Regions from separate parts of the Homo sapiens genome. Here all the other regions are linked to region 3. Evidence: fine-mapped expression QTL. A gene starts in region 3. Each other region holds a variant in brackets. All regions are shown on one strand. Distances are between the middles of the regions.

Region 1 (11,193 bases), 18 kb before region 3:
ATAATTAAAATAGAAGTCTAATTAGTGATGTCAGAGACAATTGTTAATTAGCCTCTTTATTAAGAAAAATTATACAAAGCATAGAAATAAAATATAAATGGTCTTAGTTACTTTGCCTCAAGTATAAAATGAGATTTAAATACAGATAAAGGGAGCTGAAATTCTCAATGTCAAGAATACTTGTTAAATATCTTACAGACTACACAAAATGTATATTCACTAAGTCGAATTTCCAAAACGGTCAGGGATGAACTAAGACCACACAGCAGTAGCAGGAAAGGTTAAAATCAGTGATCTTGTATTGGAAAACATTAGGTTTTGTTTAGCATTATTTTAAAGCGCTAAATAGGTGAGGAGATGCTGAAAATTGAAGCCATACTGTGACAACATGATTCTTAATCGTTTTCCTTCCATAATTAAGGACAGAAAGGAATTCCATGGACATTTTGGGGAATTTAAGTGCTACATTCATTTATCTAAATATCTTTTACACGAAAGTTATTTTTTAAAATTTGTTATTTGTACTTTCAATATATCTCTGATTATTAAGAATATTTTATATAGAATCAATTTCACTTATCTCTGGTGAAATAAAAAGATTACAAACGTCATTTCAAATTCCCAAGATGTAGATGCCATATAGCATATTCAAGTCACTTGTTAAGTTTTCATTATAGCTGCCTATTGTGGTAATAACCTATATTTTATTTTAGCTACCATTACACACTCCATAAATCTGGAAAGTATGCCCTGTTTTGAGGAATGCCAACTCATGACCATATATACACAGGCCATTTCTGACTCTTATTTTTTTTTTTACTGTTTTAAAATTTATACTGAATGATATTCAAGAAAATGTATGCAGCAACTTCAAAACACTGAGGAAAGTTGGAAATAAGATACACATGGGTTAAAATATTTGAAGCAGAATAATGAATCTCCGTGAGGCCAATCTTTGAATGAGTGAGCAATATAGAGGCAGGAATATCTTCCAAATATAAAGAAAAAAGGTCAGCTTTTTTTTTTTTTACTGATTCAGTATTTTATTTAATAAGTTTCCCAAGAGTAATTTTCCATCAATTTCTTCCCCCTTTTTATTACTTTAGGATTCTAACAGGCAATTATCCATCATTTCTCTCTCAACTGTTTTGACGGTACTACAGTAAAAGAAGCTCAGAAATAAGGACGTTGGGGGGAAAAGTGACTGTGAATAGAAACCAAAAAGCTAAAAGGCATGGAGGGGAAGCTAGAGAAGAGTAAAGCACAGCCCCATTATTTCTCTTCCAGCTTTTGCATATAAATATGAGTGAGCTCTAAGACAAAATGTGCTTTAAGAGGCAAACATTCAACAAATAAAAAAATACTAAGCATCTATAACTTCACATATTGTACTTCAGATCATTTCTCTTCAGCAGAGATGCAATATTTGCTGCAATGAAATATTTTGGGATTCAGTTTTCTGTGTTCATACTAACTACTACAATGAAGATGAGAAACCTCAACTTTTAGAGGAGGCTGTGTCCAAAAAAGTTACACACAGAGATAACAGCAATAATAACTACCTTAGGCTGAAAATAACCATCCTCTCTTTTGTTCTCTAGGTAACCAACAAGAAATGCAAGCCGTCGACAACCTCACCTCTGCGCCTGGTAACACCAGTCTGTGCACCAGAGACTACAAAATCACCCAGGTCCTCTTCCCACTGCTCTACACTGTCCTGTTTTTTGTTGGACTTATCACAAATGGCCTGGCGATGAGGATTTTCTTTCAAATCCGGAGTAAATCAAACTTTATTATTTTTCTTAAGAACACAGTCATTTCTGATCTTCTCATGATTCTGACTTTTCCATTCAAAATTCTTAGTGATGCCAAACTGGGAACAGGACCACTGAGAACTTTTGTGTGTCAAGTTACCTCCGTCATATTTTATTTCACAATGTATATCAGTATTTCATTCCTGGGACTGATAACTATCGATCGCTACCAGAAGACCACCAGGCCATTTAAAACATCCAACCCCAAAAATCTCTTGGGGGCTAAGATTCTCTCTGTTGTCATCTGGGCATTCATGTTCTTACTCTCTTTGCCTAACATGATTCTGACCAACAGGCAGCCGAGAGACAAGAATGTGAAGAAATGCTCTTTCCTTAAATCAGAGTTCGGTCTAGTCTGGCATGAAATAGTAAATTACATCTGTCAAGTCATTTTCTGGATTAATTTCTTAATTGTTATTGTATGTTATACACTCATTACAAAAGAACTGTACCGGTCATACGTAAGAACGAGGGGTGTAGGTAAAGTCCCCAGGAAAAAGGTGAACGTCAAAGTTTTCATTATCATTGCTGTATTCTTTATTTGTTTTGTTCCTTTCCATTTTGCCCGAATTCCTTACACCCTGAGCCAAACCCGGGATGTCTTTGACTGCACTGCTGAAAATACTCTGTTCTATGTGAAAGAGAGCACTCTGTGGTTAACTTCCTTAAATGCATGCCTGGATCCGTTCATCTATTTTTTCCTTTGCAAGTCCTTCAGAAATTCCTTGATAAGTATGCTGAAGTGCCCCAATTCTGCAACATCTCTGTCCCAGGACAATAGGAAAAAAGAACAGGATGGTGGTGACCCAAATGAAGAGACTCCAATGTAAACAAATTAACTAAGGAAATATTTCAATCTCTTTGTGTTCAGAACTCGTTAAAGCAAAGCGCTAAGTAAAAATATTAACTGACGAAGAAGCAACTAAGTTAATAATAATGACTCTAAAGAAACAGAAGATTACAAAAGCAATTTTCATTTACCTTTCCAGTATGAAAAGCTATCTTAAAATATAGAAAACTAATCTAAACTGTAGCTGTATTAGCAGCAAAACAAACGACATCCAATTGTCATGCTGCATGCAAAACTACACAGAATTCATGTTTTGCAGAGTTTTGCCAAAATGAGTAATCATATAATATTTACTGTAATTTTTAAAATACATTATCGTTCACAATTTTATTTTTTCATAATCAACTAAGGAAGAACGATCAATTGGATATAATCTTCTTACCAAAAATGATAGTTAAAATGTATATATATCCTAGTCCCCTAACCAAATCCTGACCTATTGGGATACTTATAAAAATTTAAGTAAGTGGGATACACAAAGAATAATAACTATTAACTTTTCATTATTAGCAAAAACCTAAGGGATTTAAACTAATTGAAACTGTATTTGATTGGACTTAATTTTTTATGTTTATTTAGAAGATAAAGATTTAAAGAAGACCTTTACAATAAAGAGAAGAAATATCGAAGTCATTAAAATAAGGAGACTTACTTTTATGACATTCTAATACTAAAAAATATAGAAATATTTCCTTAATTCTAGAGAAACTAGTTTTACTAATTTTTTACAACTTCAATAATACCATCA[T/C]TGACACTTACCTTTATTAATTAGCTTCTAGAAAATAGCTGCTAATTAGGTTAATGAACATTTTACCTTAGTGAAAAAAATTAATTAAATATGATTACAAAGTTGCACAGCATAACTACTGAGAGGAAAGTGATTGATCTGTTTGTAATTACTTGTTTGTATTGGTGTGTATAAAATACAAAATTTACATTAAACTCTAAATCATTCTTTGTTGTAAATTCTTTGTTCAAAGATATTAGATACCATGACTCACCATACCATATACAACTACATCAAATCCATTTAAGAATTAATGCCAACACCTTTATTACATGTTATTGTGCAAAGTCTCTTCTGAAGATGACTTCTCATTTCAATAAGTTCAAATGTAAATGATAAAACAGGTCAGACTTATAACATGCAGTCTAATTCTACACAAGGCATATTCGCTATTTTAACATAAACAAAACATATAACACATGTGGAAGTTTACATCACTTATCTCAATTTTTTATGATCCTCAGAGGTGACTCTCAAACAGAAGGAGGAACAGACATCAATACCTAAATATAATGCCAGAAGAAATAAAAGGGTGTATTGTTGTATAAAGTTCACTGAACTTTAATAATAATCACTTTTATTGAAACCCTCTACAACCTCTGCTGAGTTCTATTTCATTACGAAGCTGAACTCATTTAACTACTAAGTGGTATTCATTTCCAACCAGCCACATTTCTTTCTCCGGCACCACTAAAAGTGAGCACTCAGTGTCAGTGGAGATACAGAGACAGTTCATATAGTATATAACCTATACACTGCTGGGATAAACAGCAGTAATAATTTCTGCTATGTAGACTAGTACAGTTCACTCTAAAATCATATGCATAAATTTACATGTTCTATAGGAATACCAGGATATTTGAGGTAGAAGACAATCTAGAGATCAACTAATCTAACCTTCTTCTTTTGCATATAACAAAAATGAAAGGCAGACTCATCCCTCCACCCATTCAAGTTGGGGTAGAGCATGGACTGAAACTGACTACTTCACAGTGTCATGGAGGTCAGATGTTCGGAGACTACAGAGGGGACACAAACTACCCCCAAAATCTTTGTCACTGAGATGACAATTTCCACAAGAGATGAAATAAACAGAAATGCTAATAGTAATATGGTATTTTAGTAAAAGTAACTGAAAGTATTTGAAATTACCTATGTTTTATGAGTATGTATATATGCCATGGAAATTTTACATAAAACTCTAAAATCACACTTTGCTGGGATATCTTTATTCAGAGACCTTAGACATCATATACTACATCAAACTAAACCCATTCAAAACAGTGTGAGAGTTAGTATTTATGGAGGGATCATTATACATAAAACATGCCATTATCTCTAGCTTTTGGCATATTAATATATATTAACCCCACATTTCACAGTGAGTTTTACTTTTTTAAATGAAGCCAAATTCTGTAGACTCAGGTCCAGATGTGAAAAGTTCAAAAGATGAGACAACAAAATGTAGTCTTGCCCATAGCCTCAGTGGCTTACAAGTCCTAAAGGTATTGGTTATTGACAGTTTTTCTCAGTGGTTTCTTACAGAAAAGGTCTGAAGCAGGTGTTGGCAAACTATAGCCCACAGGCCAAATCGCAGCCCACTGCCTATTTTTGTACAGCTTGGGATTTAGGAATGTTTTGTTTTCATTTTTGTTTTTAATTGTTATGGATACATAATAACTGTACATATTTATGAGAGTAGAATGACAGTTACTAGAGAGTCATGGGGAAGGAGGAGATAAAGAGGTACTGGTAAATGAGTACAAAAATACAGTTAGTGAGAAGGAATAATATCTAGTGTTCCATAGCACAATAGGGTGACTATAGTTAAAAATACTGTATTGTATATTTCAAAGTAACTCAAAGAGTGGGTTCCTAATAGAAAGAAATGAATGCCTGAGGTGATGGATATCCCAGTTACCCTGATTTGACCATTACACATTGTATACTTACATGAAATATCACGTGTACCCCTTTTCAAATGTTTGTGAGGAAAAAAATCAAATGAATAAAATTTCATGCCGAATGAAATTTATATGAAATTTGAATTTCAATGTCCATAAATAAGGTTTTATTGGAACACAACTATTCAGGTTTTATCCATGGCTGCTTTCATGCTACGACAGAGCTGAGTTGCTGTGATGTAGACTGCATGGCTCACAAAACCTAAGTATTTTCTAACTGGCTCTATAAAAAAAAGAAGACTGGGGGACCTGGTGCAGTGGCTCACACCTGTAATCCCAGTACTTTGGGAGGCCGAGGCAGGCAGATCACCTGAGGCCAGGAGTTTGAGACCAGCCTGGCCAACATGGTGAAGCCCTGTCTCTACTAAAAAAATAAAAATTAGCTGGGCGTGGTGGTGGGCACCTGTAGTCCCAGCTACTCAGGAGGCTGAGGCAGGAGAACCGCTTGAACACACGAGGTTGCAGTGAGCCGAGATTGAGCCACTGCACTCCAGCCTGGGCAACAGAGTGAGACTCCATCTCTAAATAAATAAACAAATAAAAATTAAAAAAGAAGACTGCTTCCCCCTGGACCAGTACTTTAAAAACAGGTGGAAAAAAACCTTTTACAAAAAAAAAAACACAACTCTCTTTTTGTACCTAGGTGTTTCAATCATTTTGCACTGAAGACATCTGATCACTGTTCACTGCCAACACTCAAGGTGTGATTACAATACTGTCAGTGGGAACTAAAGATGTGGAAATGCACTTCATAATCAATAGGTAGTGAGAAATCGCCTTTTTTTTTTAAATGGGGCAAGAGCATGAAAAGGCAATTTCCAGGAGAAATAGAAATGGCAAAAAAAAAAAGAAAGAAAGAAAGAAAAAACACATAACATCACCAATAAGGAAATAAATTTATATTTATATAACATGGCTTTTTCACTTACAGATTTCAAATTAATTTAAAAGATTTTTTTTCTTTTTTTTGAGATAGAGTCTTGTTCTGTCACCCAGGCTGGAGTGCAGTGACATGATGTCAGCTCACTGCAACCTCCGCCTCCCGGGTACAAGCAATTCTCTGCCTCAGCCTCCTGAGTAGCTGGGATTACGGGCACCTGCCACCATGCCTGGCTAATTTTCTTATTTTTAGTAGAGACGGGGTTTCACCATCTTGGCCAGGCTGGTCTTGAACTCCTGACCTCATGATCCACTCATCTTGGCCTCCTAAAGTGCTAGGATTACAGGTGTGAGCCACCATGCCTGGCCAAGAATCCCACTCTTAATTGAACAATAAATTGGTACAATCTTTCTGGAAAACTATTTGAAAATATTATTTAACATTTTGACAAATAACTTTTTCCTAGAAGGACTGAACCAATAATCCTTCTTCTAGGAAACTTCCTACAAACATGCTAGAAAAAATGCTCAAAAATATATGGACACATACATGCTCTATAGCATTGTTTTTAATAGAGAAAAACTATTATCGTAAACTAACTACATGCCCATCAGTCGCAGCTTAACTATGGTAAATTTATGTAGCATAACTGATTTTAAATTTGATTGGCATGTTGTTAGAGAAATGCAGATCAAAACCACAATGAGACATCATCTCACACCAGTTAAAATGGCTATTACTTAAAAGTCAAAAAATAACAGATACTGGTGAGGTTGTGGAGAGAAGGGAACACTTACACACTACTGGTGGGAAAGTAAATTAGTTCAGCCACTGTGGAAAGCAGTTTGGCTTTTCTCAAAGGACTTAAAACAGAATTACCGTTCAACCCAGCAATCCCATGACTGGGTATATACATAAAGGAATAGGCGTTATTCTATCATAGAGACACATGCATGTGTGTGTTCATCACAGCACTATTCACAAAAGCAAAGACACAGAAGCAACCTAAATTCTTATCATTGGTATACTGGATAAAGAAAATGTGGTACATATACACCATGAGATACTATGCAGCCACACAAAAGAAAGAGATCGTGTCCTTTGCAACAACATGGATGAAGCTGGAGGCCATTATTCTAAGCAAACTAACACAGGAACAGGAAACCAAACACCAGATGTTGTCACTTGTTAGTGGGAGCTAAACATTGAATTCATATGGACACAAAGAAGGAAACAACAAACACCAGGGCCTACATTGAGGGTAGTGGGTGGGAGGAGGGTAAGGACTGAAAAACTACCTATCCGGTACCATGCTTATCACCTGGGTGACAAAATAATCTGTACACCAAACCCCTACAAAACACAATTTACCTATGTAACAAACCTGCACATGTACCCCTGAACCTAAAATAAAGTTAAAAAAAAAATCACGTCAGTCTACATGTACTAACATGGAATGAAACAAAAATCCAATACATAAATAAATGTAAATATATTTGTACACATATATTGGTATGTATATGTATTAACTTTCACTTTCTACTATATATGTTTGTATTTCAATTTTTAAACATAGTGTGAAATATTAAATGTTCCAAATAGCAGTGAATTTATTGCCTATCTCTAGCTACATGTAGATATTTTCTACTATTGTTCTTACTCAGAAAAACAGATTGTTACATTAATAAAAAGTATAACTTATTTCAGCTTATTATTACCACTTTTAGTTTACCACTTTTAGTTACTCTTGTATGGAATTTTTAAAACAATTTCACATAATCTGAGAAAGTACCATGGTATACTTTGATGGGAAGTAAAAGTCTTTTCTAAGAGTATAGAAGTATAGGAGTTCCTACTTCAATTTTCATCCCAAATGAAAGCAAATACTTCCTCATCTTTTCACATATTATTTATATGGTACTGGGCCTTGGACTGTCAATTTTGATGCAACTGAGAAATCCCAAATAAGACTACAAATGGAAATAGTAGTTTATTCCTATCTGGCTAGAGACTGATTTCTGTGACTTTTCATTTTATCTTCTTTGTATCCCTTCTGATCACACTGCTTTCACTCAATTTACATTGGCATAAAGTTTCACAAGTCCATTAAACATTGTGGCTGATTGTTTCCTTCTCACACATCAGGAACTTTCAGCTCAAGAACTCCAGAATTTGGCAAACAATTCCACTGTCACCCTATCTATGGCTTAATCGGAGGCAAGAGAGTGAGGCAGGTTCCAAGCATGGGCTCTGGAACCAGACCAACTGTGTGACTTTACGGCAGATTTGGGTTGCATGATATGGGGAAAATGGCTTAACTTCTGCATTTCCTTTTTTCTCAACTCTAAAAATGGGACCAATCTCTGGGGATTGTTAAGGATTAAATAAGATAATATAATCACTTAAAACAGTATAGCTAGTGTGACTTTACTGATTTTTAACTACATTTCCTTAGAGCCCTATAGGATCTTAAATGTTTAGTTTATTCCCATTTGATAGGCTCCTAGCCTCTGGGATCTTTCACTGTATCTTCTTTGATTCTTCTCTCCTTTCGTGAGACATCACCATATGTATGCACAACATTCCAATTTTCTTTCAATTTCATTTAACAAGAAACCTACATGATACCTACCACATGACAGACATTATTCTAAGCACTGGTGAATGTTCACTCATTTTATTCTTTTAACAACACTGTAAAGCAAATACTATTATTTATTTTTATTGTAAAGATAAGGCAACCATTTCATAGTGGGCATAAGCAGCTTGCCTAAGGTCATAAGAAAAGAAAGAATTGGAAAAAGGAATTGAGCCCAGGCACTCTGGCGCCTAAACATTCTGCTGAGCAGCTTCTCAGCTGTGTCTTCAAGGGCAAAAGGCCTCCCCAGCAGGCAATAGTGCTGCTGTAAACTAAGGAAAAATCAGCTAATACATAAGAAGCACAAACACATAGAAATGAATGATCTATTGGATATTTACTATAGTCAAACACTTTGACATCTACCACATTTAAGAGACTCTATTTCCATAACTCTAGAAACAGGCACTGTAAGTCAGTTCCTCTTTGGAAAGTTTCCCACACTTCAGTGTTTTGAAATTTGACCAAGAAGTGATTTCCAGTTTTCAGATTATGAAATTATCCTGCACAGAATTTATCTTGCTTAAAGAAAAACTATTCCAGATCTTCCTTTAGATTATGGATTTGGGGCTATAGGAAAATTTACAATTAATTTTGTAGGTTAAATTTCTCTACTTAAGAAATAAAGGATTTTTTTTCCTCTGCTGAAGCAAACAAAAAGATATACATTTATGTTTAAGACATACATGTATGTTCTATTAATGAAATCTTGAATCTATACTCCCAAGGATTAATTTATTTCAGTCAAAGAGAAATTTTTCAAACTGTGCCGTTATTGGGTAGTCTAATCAAAACTATTAGACACTGTATTGCCTCATATTTTAAAATGTCCAGGGGGATATTAAGTTTTTCTTCTCAGAATTCAAAGCCAAGTCACCCAAAACTTTGTGATCAACTAACACTAGTCTCGTCTAACTCCATGGTAACACTTGTGGCAAGAAACATGAAATGAAACTCACCATGAACTCCACATCCTCCGTAAGATCTCCTAATTTCCGCTTTTCCTATGCCTACCTGGCAAGTAGATTTCTGCCATGGACAACAACTTTCTCTATGCAAAAGCACCATTACATCTTTCAAACTTGAAGAGAATTAAAGCAAAAAAAATGCACAGATATTGGCCCAATGTTGATTGATGAAATTCCTGAAGTCCTCTGCACTCGAAATACACCAAATACAAAAAAGATTTCTAAAAATGGCCCTCTACTAAGTGAAAGAGTATAATATCTCTATCTGGATTTGCAATTCATTCCCATGGCAATGGGACTAAAAGCCACTAAAAGTGGCTAACATTTTTTAGTGCCTCCTATATGTCAAGCACTATTCCAGGCAACCAATTCATTCTTAATAACACAGTGTGTTAGATACTATTTTCAAACCCATTACACAGATGAGGAAATTGAGACACAGAGCTGTTGAATCATTTATCTATAATCTAATCCCAATTAATTGGTGGAACTGGGATTCTAACTCCAAAAATCTGGATCTAATAGTCTTCACCTCTCAGAAAACATCATGTTAACTCTCAGAGATCCCCAAACCAGAAGACTAAGTCAAATACCTACAAAAATAAACATACCGTCTTCCTGAACACAAATTACTGGAAAATCCAGTTTACAAGGATACAGAAGATTATTCTGTCTGATTTTAGGTAGTCTTATTCTCCTACTTGATTGTAATTTGGGACTATTTTCTTCATCTTTCTACTTTCCACTATATACAAGAGGCACTCAAAAAGTTCACTGAACATGCAGATCAAGAAGATAAACTTCAAGAAAGTTATGAAGAAATTTAAAGATAATTGCAAATAAGCTTCTTTATTCAAGTCACAGATTAACAGTATGAAAGTTTGAACTAAAATAGAGTATTAGCAAATGTCCCAAAGGTCTAAATATGAAGAGGTTCTAATGGGTCACATTACATAAGTAAAAATAAGGAAGGAAATCCACTATAAGAAAGCAGAACATTTGCTTCACATGCTCATTTGTAGGCTGAACTAATGACTGCCGCCATAAGAAGACAGAGAGAACTGAGTATCCTCCCAAAGGTGAATTTCAATTTTTGTTATTATGAGTGTGCTTGCTTATATAAAAGAATATGCTTAAGGGAAAAAAGGTGCTTTAAAGTTAATATTCTACAAACCATAGTTTATGAGCATAAGAAATTACATAATTTACAGCAATCTGATGTATTAGTAATAATAATGTATTATTATCTCTTAAACAGTGTTTTGTTTTATGGCTAACAGTAGCACCTGTGA
Region 2 (7,230 bases), 28 kb before region 3:
GCATACTGGTTGTGCCACTTGCCAAGTCCATGATCTCGAATAATAAACCTTTCTAAACCTCTAATTCTTCCTCTGAAAAATGGGGTAACATCGCTTCCTTGTAAGGTTTTTGTGAGAAAACCTGGGATAAAGCGTGTAAAATGCTTCGAAGTATAATGGACAGTGTTCACTACTGTTAATTCACATGCTAGACTTCCCCTCCTCCTCTGCACATCCCCCACACCCACACCGAACTGCCTTACTCAACATTTCACCAAGACTCCAGGGCACTTCCTCCCTTTGCTGTTGCTCGTCCTTACACCTAAAATACTCTCATAGCCACGATTTCACTTGCTGAAATGCTATGTACAAATACAGTGTCAGTTCCCTCACTCTGTCACTCCAGTTTATTGAAAACCTCCCCACAGAAGGAGGGGAAGTAGACTTTGGAGCATTTATTACAGTATAATTCACTTATTTTCTAGGTATTTGTTTAATGTCTGTCTTCCTCATTAGTGTGTAAATTTTGTGGAAGACTCCATGTCTGTTTTGTTCATTTTTATAATCTCCTTAATAGGCAATGAATTAGCATCTAATATTTGTTGAACATACTAAATACAAAATAAGCAGACTAATGAACAAATATATAGCTAAAGGAATAGGGCAGAGGTGAAGATAAGGAGAAAAATTAGTTTTGTAGGAAACTTTACCTGATGATTAAGTGTTGAGAAAAATGAAGGGGAGATGTGAGAGACAAAGCTAGAGTAAAAAAGTTTGTAGGGTGAACTAAGTTTTAGTGGTGGGAATGAAGACTAAGAAGCAAAATGAAGAGGTATCTAAGAAGTTAGGAAAGGATCAGGCTTTTGAACCCAAGGAGTAAATGTGCATCTCACTGGACTTCAAGATGTATCCACTAGTTAAAATTATTTATAATGTATACTAATAAATAGTATTGTTTATATTACCAAGTAATTATTATTAATCTATTTACAATGTATAAAAAATTAATACATTATAACAGCAGGGAACTTTTGAATTTACATGTAATTGCAAGGAATTTGAAGGGTAGGTAGAAATGTGTAAATGTCCAGTAATTGGTTTGATATGGGCCCTAACACAGAGGTGACAGCTCAGGAATAAGGGCAGTATGTCAAGTCCTGGGAGGGGTGCAAAACCTTCACATTATGTTTAGGGAAGAAGGGCTAAGAGAGCTGAGATGGTGAGGGGAGAAATAAGCCAGCAAATGGTGCACATACATGCTCCTTAATTAACAAGATACTATAATTCAGGGTCACACAAGTCAGGGGAGGGGATACATAAGAAAGAGTGTCACTGACAACGTCCAGTGAGGTTAAGAAGTCACAATGGATGTGACTTCTTGTTTACTGACAAACCATGTGTGAACCTCAAAGGAGAAGAAGTTTCTCTAAGTGGCAGGGCACAAAGCTAAGAAACAAGCGGTTAAAGTAAGAGGTGATGATGAAATGGTGAAGATAGGGAAGTGACCCACATTTACCAGGAGTTGGGCATGAAGAACAACAGCTTGAGAGGAAAGAGCGTTATGAAGATCATCAAAAGACTCTTGTTTCAGACCTATCTTTCAAATAAACAAATTTCCATAGTAGAAATCAAGATTGGGGAACAGATAACTGATGATAAAGGATATAAGAGACAATGGCCTCTTAGCTGGATTAATATGGAAAGAAAGAAAGGAACATCTTTCTACTTGACCATCGGGAAAAAAAGAAAATTAGTGAAAATAAAAAGACATTTTGAGGTGAAGAAGACACTTAAGAAGCTCAAATCATTCCTTGGCCTTGATATGCTCAGGGAGTTGGGCCAAGGAACAAAGTCATGAGTTGAGAATGCAGGGATAAAACTGAAAGCAAAAGCAGCACGTAGTGAGCTGGAAAAGAATCACTGCTCAACCTCTATAAGGGGTGTAAAGACAGTATTCCTTTCTTAGCATTAATATTTTCAGGGAACTCATGCTAGGTGTTACTACAGTAGTCTTCAAATAGGACAGGCAGAGGCATTTTAGAAGCTACTATTTTTCAAGAGCCTACAAGATTTGTTTACATCAGTTTTTCATACAAGTAGAAAATGTAGGCTGGGCATGGTGGCTCACATCTATAATCCCAGCACTTTGGGAGGCTGAGGTGGAGGATCACCTGAGGTCATGAGTTCGAGACCAGCCTGGCCAACATGGGAAAACTCCATCTCTACTAAAAATACAAAAACTAGCCAGGCGTGGTGGCAGGTGCCTATAATTTCAGCTACTCGGGAGGCTGAGGCAGGAAAATTGCTTGAACCTGGGAGGCAGAGGTTGCAGTGAGCCGAGATGGTGCCATTGCACTCCAGCCTGGGTGACAAGAGCAAAACTTGGTCTCAAAAAAAAAAAAAAAAAGAAAAAGAAAAAAGAAAGAAAACGTAGAAGCCTTCAAATAGCAATTCATAACAAATGAGAATAAAGTCAACCTAAGAAAATATACCAAATATTTTCAAAAGTATCAACGATTTCTGCTCTTTCAACTTGGTGTTTAAACGCCCTCAAGTTGCACAGTTGTAAGTAATATTAATAATCTGAGATAAACACCCAAAAATTACTCTTGTTTATTCCCTCAAGGATACAGTTGTTGGACAAGGAAAAGCATCAACTGGAGAGTCTGTTACAGGAGACGTCAGGCTACCTCTTTTATCCTAGTCCACCTGCTGCTATTGAATTGAATGTGTCATCTCCCATGTAAACTAAGTTCTAAAAATCTCGTCCTTTAGATCAATTACTTTCTTTCTCCAGATATTATCTCATACTCACAGAAACTTAATAGATGAAGAAACTAGAAACATGCATGCCCAAAACCCTGGCAGGCTTGTTGTACTACACGAATTAAAATATGTCTCTTGAGCCAAATGTCCTTAGAAAGAAGAAATGGAGTTAAAGGAATTGAGGTCTGCTCTAATTCATCTTTATTTCTTTAAAATAACTGATTAGAAATTTTGCCAAAATGTGTATGTGTTGACAAAGATGTCATAATGATGGTAAGATGATCAGAGCTGTGTATTATCCTTTCACCTTACTCACATTTTCTGATATTTCAACAATGATTCAATTATCATAGAATTTTTAAATTACTAATGTCCTTAAGGAAAAATGAAAAAGATCTCACTCAGAATGCGCTTCCTTTCTTCCAAACACTAATAAAAACAGATGAAGTGGATGTAATTGTCCTTCTGATAAGACAAAATATGGCACTTCATACTTCCCAGTACTTCCTAATTTTTGCATGCTCTACTTCAAATGCAAATCCAGTATATATCCGGAAGTAAACTGCACATAGCAACCTATCACGTCTCTAAGAAAAGCAGTAAAAACCAGTCTTTAGAAACAATAAATGCATTTAGTTAAAATTTTTAGCTTATTAAATAACTCTTAAAAGATGCCTTAAAACACTATTTCTTTCAGCTGTATCTTTCAATATACCATGCTATTTTGTTTAGAATAAAACAAGTTCATATAAATGTTCCATCAGGAATAAGCTTCGAGCCTGGGAGGAAGAATGGGTGTGCACATGGATGAGGAAACTGTTACAGGAATGAAGAAATTAACAGGTTTTTTTTT[A/TA]ATCATTAGTAACTATACATAGAGTATATTTTCTGTAAATCAAGAAAATAGGAGGCGGATTTAACTACATTTGTATATTAAATCTTTGTTCTACACAGCTTATAGTCCACAGTATGACTGATATTTATATATCTACTAGTCCTCTTCTTGCAAGCAGAACACTTAAGACTGGGATGTCAGATAACTAGGTCACAAAAGACGGCATTCATTTTTGCGAAATATTTCAATGCCCAAGACTCGTTACTTTTGGAACCTGTTGGTATCTAACCTAAATTTCTATATTCCAATGGATAAAGCCAAGCTAGCAGACATGACTATGCACTGCTTTAAAATACACACCCTCAAACAAAATATTAATGTCAAAATGACCACATTTAGAACCAGAGACCACTGGAACTAAAACAGCCTAAGAGCTATCAAATGTCATAATTATATCTCTATCCTCCTGCCCAGTTCCAAAAGACTACAGGTTTCAGAGTAATCCCATTTGAAGCAAACATTTTCAGATGAGCAGACTACCTTTAGTAGACTTGGTAAAATAAACAAACCAGTTAAGCCACTTAAAAGTAAAAATTCTGTTCATTTTTCTAACTCATCTCAATTATACAAAATAACCAAACCAACCAAAGTTAGCTCTGTTCCCAACACTAACACAAATAACTACAAACTGTATGTGTTGATGTTATTTACTAATGAGAGATTAAAGTATCTATAACTTGCTCTGCTTCTATTCATATGAAAATATACTTCTGTAACTGAGATACTTTTCACTTAAAGATTTTAGTCACTTTCAGCATTAAGTGGTCTAACTGGCAGTCTTCCTCCAATGAAAAAATGTTATCAGAGGTGGTTTGTAAATAGGTATGTGGTTGTGAGTTAAAAATCAGAGGAAAAATAAAGTTAATTTAGATCAAGAACTGAAGCCCTTCTTTTATCCCTCAAATCTCTACTGTTAGCCCTTCTAGAGGTTTAGAAATATAAATTCTCAATAAGGTAGTATGACTTAAGTATTCTGAATTAGTAATATGGCAGATTGATTTGTTAAAAATAATCATTTTCTTGAATAAGCCTTGTTTCATTTGATGGTCTTAGAAAAAGCATCATAAACATCCTTTAGCATTTACAATTTGCTGTAAAGGAGAGTATGGTCCTTATTTTATTGAAAGACGTACAACCATCCCACACGAGATTCACTTCTCACTACTGGGGCCTCTTAGTGGGAGAGGGGTTGAGGAGAGGGTGTGATAGGGAAAGATTCTCAGGTACAGAAATACACAAATACAGATTCTAAGGCTAACTAGACAGCACAGGTCAGAATGGGGTCTCCATCTAACTTCACTGCTCTGCTCTTCAGTTCCCCTCATCCAGAGAATGAGGATGATACGCGTACTTCAGAGAATAGTTGAGATTATTAATAAAGTGAGTTAATCCATGACAGTGTAAGAAATTAAATATTGACAATTATTATTTGAAGTACATACAGCATAAAAGCTCTTTTTAAAATTTTGAGACTCCAACAAATAAGGAAGGCTAAGATTTGTTTACAATAGTCATATTTAAAAATAACAATACAACCCTTTCCAAGAGTTTAATATCAAACTAATCCCTTTAAGATGACCAACATTTGGGGATTATTATGTGTCTGAAGTGACTGATATTAATAGCTTCAAGTTCTAAATGGCAACAAAATTCTTATTCCATTTAAATCAGTGGTCCTCACATTTGAGTGTACCAAGCATCAATGGAAGGCTCACTAAAATACAGATGCAGGGTGGGGCACCCCAGAGTTTTTTATTCACTCAGCTAGATTGGTGCCCAAAAATGTGCATTTCTAGCAAGTTCCCAAGTGATGCAGAGCTGCTGCTCTGCACTGTGAAAACCAATGAAGATATTTAACATGTAAAGACATAGACAAATACTCAAAACGCAGAAGAAAAAACCAAAACGTGTTCACAGCAAAGGCACCAACACAAATGATTCCCACTGATAACAGAAGGACACTGCAGTTTGAGACACCAGGGAGGTGTGTTTCTGCAAAGCAATATTTACATAAAGTTAAAGCAGCACAGGTGTTGGAGAGGATGTGGAGAAATAGGAACACTTTTACACTGTTGGTGGGACTATAAACTAGTTCAACCATTGTGGAAGTCAGTGTGGTGATTCCTCAGTGATCTAGAACTAGAAATACCATTTAACCCAGCCATCCCATTACTGGGTATATACCCAAAGGATTATAAGTCATGCTGCTATAAAGACACATGCACACGTATGTTTATTGCGGCACTATTCATAATAGCAAAGACTTGGAACCAACCCAAAAGTCCAACAATGATAGACTGGATTAAGAAAATGTGGCACATATACACCATGGAATACTATGCAGCCATAAAAAATGATGAGTTCATGTCCTTTGTAGGGACATGGATGAAATTAGAAATCATCATTCTCAGTAAACTATCGCAAGAACAAAAAACCAAACACCACATATTCTCACTCATAGGTGGGAACTGAACAATGAGAACACATGGACACAGGAAGGGAAACACTACACTCTGGGGACTGTTGTGGGGTGGGGGGATGGGGGAGGGATAGCTTTAGGAGATATACCTAATGCTAAATGACGAGTTAATGGGTGTAGCACACCAGCATGGCACATGTATACATATGTAACTAACCTGCACATTGTGCACATGTACCCTAAAACTTAACGTATAATAATAATAAAATTAAAAAAAAAAAGTTAAAGCAGCAAAACACTTTGCCCTTCAATCTCACCCCTAACATATTTTTTGCCCTTCTGGTTTCAAAGTTAAACAACTGTAAATAATTGTGATACAAGGATGCCTTAATTTAATGTTATATTTTCCCAAAAACTCAAAGTTAGGTAAAGAAACAAAAAAAAATTGTTTATATTTAAATTCTATTCAAGAAAAGCATGAACGACACAGTATATAATAAGCCTGGCAATGGATACAATCACTTCTCTAATGTAATTTTGGAATCTGCTAATTTATAATAGAAGGAAGCTGTTTCACCTACAAAGGAGTTAATCAAACACAGGTTTAAAATAATGACATTATTAACCAAGGGAAAAACAAAGGGCCAGAGACTTAACATCCCTAGCCAGCACGCATTTTGAGTTAACATAATTACTTGTTAGAAGAAAATACATCACCCAGTGTTGTACACAATATATTTCAGATAAATTAACCACCCAAGAAAGCAAGCTTAAAATCTTCTCCAGGAAGCAGACTTCGAAGGCTTGATCTCAACTTGGATTTATCATTTGCATAGAAAATAACCATAACTCGAAGTTATAAATCATCAACTCTATAGCAGGTTTCAGTAAAAAGCCGCAAGATTTTAAATTGCTTTTTAAAAGATGACTTCTCAGCCATCCTCATCCCACATTTCCTGGGAAATAAAAGCAGAAGTCCTAAAAGAGGACAGATAGAAATTCAGTGTCTGCATAGCTTTGAGTCCAGTGTTTGAAGACAATCTCTGATTGTGAAGCCCTCTTTTTCTCTCCTTCTATTTCTCTCTAGAGCACTCAAGACTTTACTGACGAAAACTCAGGAAATCCTCTATCACAAAGAGGTTTGGCAACTAAACTAAGACATTAAAAGGAAAAT
Region 3 (11,193 bases):
TCGGGAGGCAAAAGTGTGAGAATCACTTGAGTCCAGGAGGTTGAGGTTGCAGTGGGCCATGATCACACCACTGCACTCCAGCCTGGATGACAGAGCAAGACCCTGCCTCAAAAGACTTCCAGGGAGAAACAAATCAGCTTTTATATTAGTTAGGCTTTTCCCAGGGATTTCTATGAACATGTAGAATAATTCCTTTCTATGCTATGATGTGCATAGTGAACATGTTCCATGTGAAATAGCTAACAGAGAAGTACAAATCAAACAGTTGGGTGCAACCACACAGGCCAGAGAACTCAGCCTTGGTCAGAAACTGGGTGTATCAATATTTTCAATATCCATGTAACCCGGGTTTCTGCTTCCTTGCCTCCATTCTCATTCTAATATGAAGTCCTTATAGAAAAAAATAAGATGGGAAGAAAGGAAGTCAGAGGAAAGGAGAGATGGGGACACTAAGAGAAAATGGTAGGAATGGAAGTTGAGACAATTGGGGGGAGTGATAAAAGGGAAAGAAAAAGGCAAGATAATATGAAAGAGAAAGGAAATTAAATTTAAGACTTAAGGAAGTAAACTAGTTCTTTAAAAATTACATAACTTACTCAGCATGTGAACTTTTGCCACTCTTGTAATACAACTCAAACTGACAAATATAACATCCTGAGGCATAATAACAGAATGTCCACCTTTATTTTTGAACTTCAGTTTAAACGTTAAATGTGTGTATATGACTTTACTTACTGGTGTTGATCTTAATTGTATCTAATGTATTTCTGAAGGCTTTCATAGCTTTGGGTTTTTTAAAAAAAATATTAGCTTTATGTATTGACTTTATATCATATATACACATAATGTCACTGGTCTTTAAGTCTTTTTTTATTCTATTTAACTGTACAACTGAGTTTCCTAAGTCCAAAAATGCCCAAACTGTGAATGAATGAAGCTTTATCCTGAACACAGTAACCCTACTGAGACGACCTCCCTTCTCTCCCCATATATTCTAACCTCAGCTTTTATAGATTCCCACAATTTCAGATAGTCTGGAATAAAGAAGTCCAAACTTCCTTCTTTACAGGAGAAAAAAACTGTCAAAAAAGATTATAAAAAGCATTTCAAGCAATCATCAGTTTGTCACTAATAGGAAACCAGAAGCTTTCTAAAAGCAACCAAAATTATGGATGTACCTTAACTTCTAAGCTGAGGCATATCATTCCAACTCCACCATGCATCAGACACCCCATTCATTCGCTTGCTCTCCCTTCACCTTCTGACAAAAGACAAAGTGCTCCTGTACCCTTAAATGCCAACCAAGTTCCAAACACTGTGGAACTACACTGTATATATTTATCCTGAATAGATTACCTCATTTAAGCTTTACAACCCTACATGGCAGGCATTGCCATGCTCATTTTCAGAAGAAGATATGCTTTGCCCAAAGTAAAAAAAGCTGCTAAGTGGAGATGTTCCAAATTGGAGTTTACCTGACCCCAATCACTAGTCTTGTCACAGCCGGACACTGCCTCTCGCACAAGCAAGATTTACAAAGCAAGGAGATAGATTAAGTTGCCCAGCATAGGAAGGAGTATCAGTAAAAGGACAACAGTCAGAGATGCAGCCTTATCTCCAGACTCAATCTCCAAACCATCCCCCTTCCCTTTAATCAAATGAAGTTCTCATACCAGAAAAAGGTGTTTCGTGTAAAGCAGACCTGATAGATACAAATAATTTCAAATGACAGATTAAACACAGTAATTCAAGCATAGGGACCCAATGATACCAATCTTGTCAAAGGACTGACTATTAAAGGGCTTATAATAATTATACTCAGCACAAGTTCTCAGCTACTGGATGTGAGCCACAATTAGAAAGACTTGTGTACAGAGATGGAACAGTAAGACTTGGGCAAAGGTTTTACTATAATCCTTGTTGCATGTTCCAGCCACATGGAAAAGACCAACACGGGCATTCAAGAGAGATCACCTTGAGCTATGTTGCAATTAGATCCCTGCTTGTCTTTGTTTTGTAATAACAAGTTAGTGTACTATAAAGGACTATGACGCCCTTTATATGTGCATTTTCCTTAAGAAGAAACAGATACATCTGAGATTAGTGATACAGAAAAATGAGATTATAACACAAATACTATGCCTACCAACACTGGGAGGAAACACTGTCCCCAGGTCCACACCAATGCAGAAAAGCCAAAGAAAGAAGGGAGGAAAAAGTCATATGCCATGGAGAAACCACTAGAAACCAAGGTAAGCCTTGGTAATACATTTGCTCAATGTCTCATATCAAAAACATGAGAAAACAGAATAAAGAGTTCATTTCAGGACTGAGAAAGGCTTATGAGTAATCTTACCTATTTTAATTCCTTCGAAGATGTGACACTTTTTCTCCTTGAGCGCCCCTGTCTCTTTAAGAATATATTTTGAAAAATCAGTAAGATTACGGGAATCCTCATTTGAATTTCTGTGACTAAACCAAATATGTTTGGTTTAGTTTGTTGCCAGTTTGTTGTATTTTGAGTAAAGAGTTATGCTATGCAGATTTTGCCATTTTTCATGATGATTCATAAATAATAAATGAGGTACTGCTCATAATCTGACATTTTACTGTCGTCAGTAAATATGTTGGAGTGGGGAAGAGTATATGTGAAAAACAGTAACAATTTATAAATCTAGATGAAATCTAGTTGAACAATTCTTTCAATTTGTTTGTAGTCTTAATACCTTTAAAAATAATGTTAGAAGGAAAAAAATCACCCTAGTATAAAAACAAAACAAAATTTTTTAAAGTTTTCTGGTGGCCGACACACACACACACACACACACACACACACACACACACGCACACACACACACACACCTGGATGTTCTGTATTTAAAATAAATTTGGGGTTTGTAATGGCTAAACAAAATTAATAAAAGAGTGCCCTGCATTTAACAGGATTTTCCAATGAAGTGGAAAGGAAATTATCGCTATGAAGATTCCCGGGGCTTTTATGAAATGTGAGACTTGCTATAAAAACCAGCAGGAAAAAAATTATGCTGGTTTACCTTTCGATTATGTGAACAATAATAAAGCTATGGGCTGGCTGTTAGCTGCTCTTTGCATCAAAGTGTTACACTTTTTTCATGACTAAACATGTATTACTTCCCTTTTGGAATGTTAGGTAAGACCAGCTTTCACAAGTCCCAACTTGAGACTGGCATAATATACTTTAAGACTAACGCATAAAGGCTGCCTTGCGTTAACTTTTTTGTTACTATACTAAATTTGCGCTGCCAGCCAACGAAACACTGAAACACTCCAAGCCAGCTGTTAGGCTACCGTCCCGGGCACGTTGCTTACAGAGGTATTGGGAAAGGAAAAAGTGCATCCTATCCCAAGCCCACTTCAGGAGAAAAAGGGGGCCACCTACTGTAGTGAAGGGACATCACCTTATTTCCTACTTAACACCATCACACATAAAGTTAAAGATGCTTCATTATACAGGAAAATTTCATAGGCCCCTCACAAGCCCTTCTTCGCACTTAGAAGGGCCTATGATAACCCTTTCACAGTAGGGCCCTCTCTTTTTTTTAAAAGGTCTTTATTCTTATAACAGAAGCCTGTCAAATATCTGTCAGAATAAGCTCCCTACTAAGATTTTATACACATCACTGGAAATTTGGGGTGATAATCCTCAGTACTTGCAGCAAAGTTCTTTGCACAACATACTTTTATGGGGGCCATAAGAGATGCTTCTCCCTTTGACTGATGCCTTTAGTACTTAACAGTTAGTTGTTCTGGCAGTAAAATGTCAAATTATGAGCAGTACCTCATTTATTATTTATGAATCATCATGAAAAAATGGCAAAAAGGTCAACACAAGGACAAATCTCCCAAACTAAAGTCTGCATAGCATAACCCTTCTGCTCAAAATACAACAAACTGGTTTCAAAAAAAAAAAAAGAAGAAAAGAAAAGAAACTGGCTTCAAATGCTAAATCAATGGGGAAGTATAAAATAGCACAGAGAGAGTCAAAACTAAATGAAGGATTGTTTGTAAATCTGCAAATTCTTAAAAGATTAGGCCATTATTAAGTTGGCTAATTGTTATTCAAACACCTTCCCCAGGACTAGCTACTTTTCCGTAACATACTTAATCCACCCAAAGCAGAATGTAAAAAAAAAAAAAATTAAAATTGTAGGTGTCTGTTTTTGTATGGTTAGGAAGCAGATAGGAAAATACAAAAAATATAATTTTGATACCCAACTCTTGATTTTTAAGTTAAACACCCATTTGTTTTTCTGTAAAAACATAAGGAAAATCAACTAGTACGTACACATTATTTCCTTAAGACACAAGTAAACACTAAGTAATACCTATTATAGATTTATTCACTCCAAAAAAGTTTTCACCTTTGATTATTTTCATTTATCTTCATCCACAATAACAGGTTTTGATTCCATTTGATGAAATTTTATTTTTTTAAATGTATTTAAATGTTGCATTCAAGAAAATATCAGAATCTTTGAGATTCTCATCTGAAAGCAAGAAAATTATTTACAAATCAGAAAAAGTGGCCGGGCGCAGTGGCTCACACATGTAATCCCAGCACTTTGGGAGGCTGAGGCGGGCGGATCATGAGGTCAGGAGTTCAGGACCAGCCTGGCCAACATAGAGAAACCCCGTCTCTACTAAAAATACAAAAAATTAGCCGGGTGTAGTCGTGGGCACCTGTAATCCTACCTACTCAGGAGGCTGAGGCAGGAGAATCACTTGAATCCGGGAGGTGGAGGTTGCAGCAAGCTGAGATCATGCCACTGCATACCAGCCCGGGCAACAGTGTGAGACTCCGTCTCACAAAAAAAAAAAAAAAAAAAAAAAAAAAAAAGTGATATGATTATATAAATTTGTCATTGTTGGATGCTTTTTTAAAGCAATAAAATAAATTGTTTTATGTTAAAGGTCAGCATTCAAAGGAGTCAGTGAACCCAGCCCCTGAATAATTTAACATATTTTGAATACTTATCATTGTGTATGTGTAAAAATATGTCTATTGTGTATGTGTAAAAATATGTCTACAGATTTCATTAGTTTCATAAGACTACAAGTTTCCAAAGTTATCAATTACAACAATACTCTTTAAATAATATGTAGAATAATATTTTCAAAGAATTCATCTGTCATAAAGCATATTCTTATTTCTTTTAATCCAAAATTTAATTGGCAGGAAGGCTGCAAATACATGTTTTCTAGATAGCAATAGGAGGCTGGAAAAAAAAAATGACCTAAAAATTGGATCTGATGAGTTAGTAGGCCCCAACCCGAGACTTCATCCCCCACTCCTTAAGCAGACTTCTGGCAGTCTAAGCTCCAGCCCTCTGTGTTTCCTTCAGGTGAATCACCATCTGATTCCTGCAGGTTCAGGAAATACTCTTCCCCAGTCGACAAATCTCACCTACTCTTAGTTATGAGTCATTTACATTAGCAAGAGAGCAAGTTGTTCCAGTAGTCGCCTGGCAGGAGAATTTGAAAGGGTGCCCCAAAGGACAATCTCTAAAGGGGTAAGGGAGATACCTACCTTGTCTGGTAGGGGAGATGTTTCGTTTTCATGCTTTACCAGAAAATCCACTTCCCTGCCGACCTTAGTTTCAAAGCTTATTCTTAATTAGAGACAAGAAACCTGTTTCAACTTGAAGACACCGTATGAGGTGAATGGACAGCCAGCCACCACAATGAAAGGTAAACGAAAAATTTTTCATTTTCTTAAAAGCCGTGGTTGATAAGACACAGCAATGATTAAAAACTGTAATTATACTTCTGCTTAACTCTGAGGTTTGAAGAAAAACTAGAAATTAGAATGCTGACAGTAAGATATGAGGCACCACTGTGAGCCATGAAGCTTCAACTGTTTCCAGCTCAGGCAGGCAGAAATATAAACTACATATTGTGCCTTCAAAAGTAGAAACAATGTTTTGGCAATCACTCCTATTTAGTACATTTTTTTTTAAACCACATTTACTTTATTAGATGAGTAAAAGTCAAAGTCTCTTATAATTGTTTCCCAGGACCCAAAACTTAAAATTTGTTTCATAATCGTTTATCCGTATTGTTTTTTTTTAAAGAGAGAGACAAAGATTTTTCTCTTTCCCAACTGTCTCATTTTGATAAAATAATCTCAGTCTTTTCATTGTACCACAAAGAACAGGGCAATCCTCATTCTGATCCCTGGAGAAGTCATGTTAAAACATGTCAGGAAAGGCACTGAGAAAACTGCCCAGTGACTGACAAACAGGTTAGGAACAGCTTACTGTTGTTCCACATTCAAACTGTTTGGGAAGTTTTCACTGCAATGAGGAAAACAAGAAGCAAGCATGGAGATCTCAGTTCTTTTAAATTTTAATAAGGACTTTTAAAAGATAGATGAGCCTAAAGTAGAGTGACTTTTTGATTTCTTATTTTAAGATTTATCTGCTATGGAATTTTACATCACATTCTCAAGTTGAATCTGCTTTTATTTTAGGTATATTAACATTTTTAACAAGAGATTTCTTTCATAATTGTTCTCCAATTTACTAGCAATATGAACAGCAACAAATCTGGTTCTATATTACTTTATACTGGGGGGAAAAAAGCCAGACACCCTGTTGATATTTATTATTTCTGCCAATTGAGATTAACTGTCTCCATGAAGTTAGGGATCAAAGAGGCATATTCTCTTAATCCTTCAGCAACATCTCATCCTCAGACTCTTGTTTCTGACCTCTACTTGAAATGTGTTGCAGGTATACATGGGTTAAGGACAAGGGCCTAGAAGAGCAGATGGATGGCTGAATTTCATATTTAAGGATACAGCCTATAAAAAGAAAGTATCCCGCCAGAAAATCTTTATTTCATGAAGACACTGAGAAAATGCCCTAACCAGAGATAACATGCTAAGAGGATTTACTGCATTCAGAGATGTGGGTGGGAAAAGGAAGACTAAGTTAAAAGGAATGTTCTTATTTAGAGTTGTGCTGTTTGTGCTCTTCAGAGTCTGCCTGCTTTTCTTCCTTAATATCTTGGCATTTAACTCTCTTTAAGAACCACAACAACAAAATATTTCACGCTTAGCTCTTTACTCTGAGAAAATACCAAGGAAAGTTAAGATAGAGGAGACCACAATGGCCATTAGTTCCTTGTATGCTCCTGAAATAAGAAAAGCCTGGAAAATCCATGAAAATCCCTCAAAGCCCAATAAAGGGTAAGGTTGTGAAGACAGGACAGAAGTGAGGTGAAATCTACGTAAAGTCACCTCCCTAGAAGCATCCCCCAGTCTCCAGGGTAGATGTTCTCTATGCAGGCAAGAGGCAGTAGTTTGGGTTTAAAGTAGAAAGCCCAGGACTCACAGCAAAATGACCTGGGTTTAAGGGCTGATTGTACCAAATATTATCAGTGTGACTTAGGCAAGTCTCTGAATTCCCCAGGAGCTCACTTCCCTTCCTCACAGGTAAAATGAAGGGATTAGATCAGAGGGTCATTAGAGGCCCCTTGCATCTCTAGATTCCCACGATCCAGGTGATATGCTGAGACGCTGGGGTTGGTAATGAAAGAACCCAAGGCTTGGACCAAGCACACAGGAATGCTTGAGAGGAAATGGGGTAGAGCCACAAATGAGGACCTTCCCAATTCTGCCCCTAGCCAGCTACGTGATGTTAATCAAATCTCGACTTCGCTAGGTCTCAGATTCTTCCTCTACAAGATGAAGATGAATGTACTATTTGCTCTTCCTACCTGGCTGAAAGTTTTGCATTAATACAAGTATTAATACAAGTGCCAGCTGCAGTTCTTATACTTGTAACTATCTAAAGCAGGGAGGCAAGAGCAGAAGCAAATGCAAGGTGACCCTGCTGTTAAAAACTAGATGAGATGCACCCACCTCTCAGACCTTCTGCTTCAGGCCAATGGTGAAAGACAGGTTCTTTCTGACCTTACAAATATTACGAAATCCTCTCCCTCCTTATATGGCAAACACAGGCAGAATAGAATATTTGTTCTCTATCTTGTACCTAATTAACATATTTTGTTTCATTAATATTATTATTGGCCAAACATTTAAAAAATTACACTAAAATACATTTAAGCGAGAGCACTGATTAAGTTCCATTTAGTGTAAGCCATGACATTAAGTCATTTATATCAATGATTCTATAGTTTCTCTTAAACAGTAATTTCTAATGATTTCCATCATTTTAAAAGAAGAGCAAAGCTCCTTAAATGACCTTTTCTAATGTACTAGATAGGATCCGTATGGCACAAACTGTCCTTCTATCCTTAATACTAAAACAACAATAATTAGCATATACATCTAGCTTGATATGTGACAAGATTACTGCATATTTTATCATGCAATTTTTTTTTTTTTTGAGACGGAGTCTCGCTCTGTCACCAGGTTGGAGTGCAGTCGCGTGATCTTTGCTCACTGCAACCTCTGCCTCCTGCGTTCAAGCGATTCTCCTGCCTCAGCCTCCCAAGTGGCTGGGATTATAGGCGCCCACCACCATGTAACCTCTGCCTCCTGGGTTCAAGCAATTCTCCTGCCTCAGACTCCTAAGTGGCTGGGATTATAGGCGCCCACGACCATGCCCAGCTAATTTTTGTATTTTTAGTAGAGACGGGGTTTCACCATGTTGGCCAGGATGGTCTCAATCTCTTGACCCGGTGATCCACCCATCTCGGCCTCCCAAAGTGCTGGGATTACAGGTGTGAGCCACCGCACCTGGCCTTATCATGCATTTTTTTTTTTAACTCAGACAACCTTAAGGTATAAATTACTATTATCCACTTTTACAGCTGAGCAAACTGAGGCTTAACAAGCATAACAGTAGGGAGCACAGCTCTGACCTTGAACCACTGCCCACAGTCAACCACGCTGTATTTGCTGTTACCTCTTTTTGTGGGTAGTTTCATATGTAAAATGATATAGACTTATTGTATATTTACCATATACTAGTACCATAGTATAGACTACAGTAGATAAATGGCCAACTTGGGTGCATGATCCCCTGCAATCAAGTTGGAGCTATTTTAACTTGGTAGTTTTCCCAAAGGAGGCATCAGGTGCTAATCAGCACATGAATACCAAACTTCTGTGCAGGCAGTAGCAGAGCGGTAGTTAGGAGCACAGCACTGAGATGGGCTTACGTTCTGTTCAAATCCAGGCTCTGCCCCTCATTAGTGGTGTTAATGAGGGCAAGCTCTAGCACTCCAGCGACAGCACATATCTGCTCAAAGAACAAATAACATGTGCAAATAGCCCAAGTATATTGTATTCCAAGTATTCTCTCTAAGCCTCAGGTTTTTTCATCTGAAAAACTAGAGTACTAATTCTTACTACCCACTCAAGTAGCATGTCAATACTGAGTTATTACTACATGTCAAGTTTGAATAAAAGGTCTATGCTATGGTAATACTTCATTCAAAACAATCTTATGAGGGCTGTTTTACAGAAGAAGGCGGCACAGAGGGGTTGGGTAACCTGCCCAAGTAAGTGGCAAACCTGTAATGTGAATCCAAAGTCCTTTTAATAAATTAAAATATACATAGGTAATTTAGAACACTTCTAGGCACACAATAATACTAGCCAGCATTTGGGGAGCTCTTTTACTGTTGTTGTATGTAGCAAGATAGACACTTAGACTTCTCAAGCTCCCAGAAAGGGTTTTGCCCTGTAGCCTGAACAGGCTCTCAGGTCAAAGATATTACTGTCTCTTGACCACCAGAGAAACTCTCTGGAGGACATATAACAAAGTGAAACTTTGTTTTCCAAGTCCTTGAGTCTAGAGGGTACCCTTTACTGACTATATCAAGATTCGGAATGCCTCCAAAGCAAAGGCCAGTATACCAAAAGGGCAGCAGAAACAAAATGATCTGAAGTCCCTGTACTAAAGGAGCTTATGATCTAGTTAAGAAAGAAAAAAGTTAACAGAATACTTGGACTGTTTGCACATACTAGAGTATGAAGCTCTGTGGCTCTCAGGCTGAGAACTAAAAAGAGAGATCCAAGAAAACAATGCATAAATATCTGTTGCCTCTAGACTGTAGGCATTTGAGGATTTGCTATACTCTTTTCGGGGTGGATGACCTACCTGTCCCCCATCTTGTTCCTCCTCAGACCTGCTAGGCCCCAAAATTACAAATAAAACTGAAAATAAATCACTGGGCCTTTCAAAACTTTTTTAGATAAACCGGCTCCAAGACAAATTGGGAAAAACTGCAAAATCAATTGTTTTTGTGTTGTTGTTTTTGAGACGGAGTCTCGCTTTGTCACCCAGGCTGGAGTGCAACAGCGTGATCTTGGCTCACTGCAACCTCTGCAACCTCCGCAACCTCCGCCTCCCAGGTTCGAACAATTCTCCTGCCTCAGCTCCTGAGTAGCTGGAAATACAAGTGCCTGCCACCACACCCGGCTAATTTTTGTATTTTTAGTAGAGACAGGGTTTCACCATGTTGGTCAGGCTGGTCTTGAACTCCCGACCTCGTGGTCTGCCCACCTCAGCCTCCCAAAGTGCTGGGATTACAGGCATGAGCCACCACGCCTGGCCTAAAATTAACTGTTTACTAGATATATTTATATAGAAAACAGTGCTACATATCATGATGAAGTAGAATGTGGCTCAAAGTAATATGCAATCCTTAAATAATCGCAGCTACAATTGTATTCTAGTTGTCACACCTAAGCATTTTAAAAACCTAAAAAATGAAAACTTTTAGAGGATAATGGCTTGCATTAGGTCAAAACGGTACATGCCTATATTATATATAGCAAAACAAATTAATAGAAGAATAGTAAATGCCATTTAAAAGGTAATTACTACATCAATGTGTCAGCATATACCATGATGGCTGCTGGAAAAATAAAACTATAGTATCTGCTAAACATCAATATTCCCTTTACCCTAAAACATTCATTCTAATTTCATAATGTAAACAACAACACTAAATATATATATATACACACACACACAGTTTATATATATATATATAATTTTAAAAACTATTCATTCTGTGCCTAGAGCCAACAGTACAATACCTCAAGTATTATCTCTACTTTTCATCCTAAGACCCAGAAATGCTAAAATGTACTCAATCCTTCACAGAGTCATGCTGGATCTTACCATGGTCTGTTTATATCCAGTTTACAGTCTATATGAAATTGCAAATAAGACA

Which allele goes with the higher level. Alleles are on the strand shown, and positions count from the first base shown. SD is a standard deviation of normalised expression in the study named. Not every link is listed here.
For the expression in neutrophils of the gene that starts at base 5,493 in region 3, allele TA in region 2 goes with a lower level than allele A (moderate effect, 0.65 SD a copy in BLUEPRINT).

What was found. PIP is the estimated chance that this variant, and not a neighbour inherited with it, causes the effect. A credible set is the group of variants that fine-mapping cannot tell apart.
Region 1: its variant is the best candidate, but not a certain one, in a credible set for the expression of GPR87 in esophagus mucosa (GTEx, PIP 0.54).
Region 2: its variant is the best candidate, but not a certain one, in a credible set for the expression of GPR87 in neutrophils (BLUEPRINT, PIP 0.53).

Annotation. Positions count from the first base shown.
Region 1 is chr3:151,329,268-151,340,460 of GRCh38, reverse strand. All of the region lies in intron 16 of MED12L (mediator complex subunit 12L), which reads right to left. P2RY12 (purinergic receptor P2Y12) reads left to right here. Exons shown (of 3, transcript NM_022788.5): 3 at 1,602-3,618. The coding sequence starts at 1,616. The coding sequence ends at 2,644. It overlaps P2RY13 (purinergic receptor P2Y13), which reads left to right and starts at 10,912. Exons shown (of 2, transcript NM_176894.3): 1 at 10,912-10,980. The coding sequence starts at 10,933. The variant T/C (reference allele first, on the strand shown) is at 3,413.
Region 2 is chr3:151,340,674-151,347,903 of GRCh38, reverse strand. All of the region lies in intron 16 of MED12L (mediator complex subunit 12L), which reads right to left. It overlaps P2RY12 (purinergic receptor P2Y12), which reads left to right. Exons shown (of 3, transcript NM_022788.5): 2 at 7,144-7,230. Among named protein-coding and RNA genes, the nearest start is that of P2RY13, 15 kb to the right of the region's middle. The variant A/TA (reference allele first, on the strand shown) is at 3,599.
Region 3 is chr3:151,311,120-151,322,312 of GRCh38, reverse strand. GPR87 (G protein-coupled receptor 87) reads left to right here and starts at 5,493. Exons shown (of 3, transcript NM_023915.4): 1 at 5,493-5,727. The region is part of intron 16 of MED12L (mediator complex subunit 12L); the gene reads right to left. RefSeq lists an enhancer at 4,908-6,107.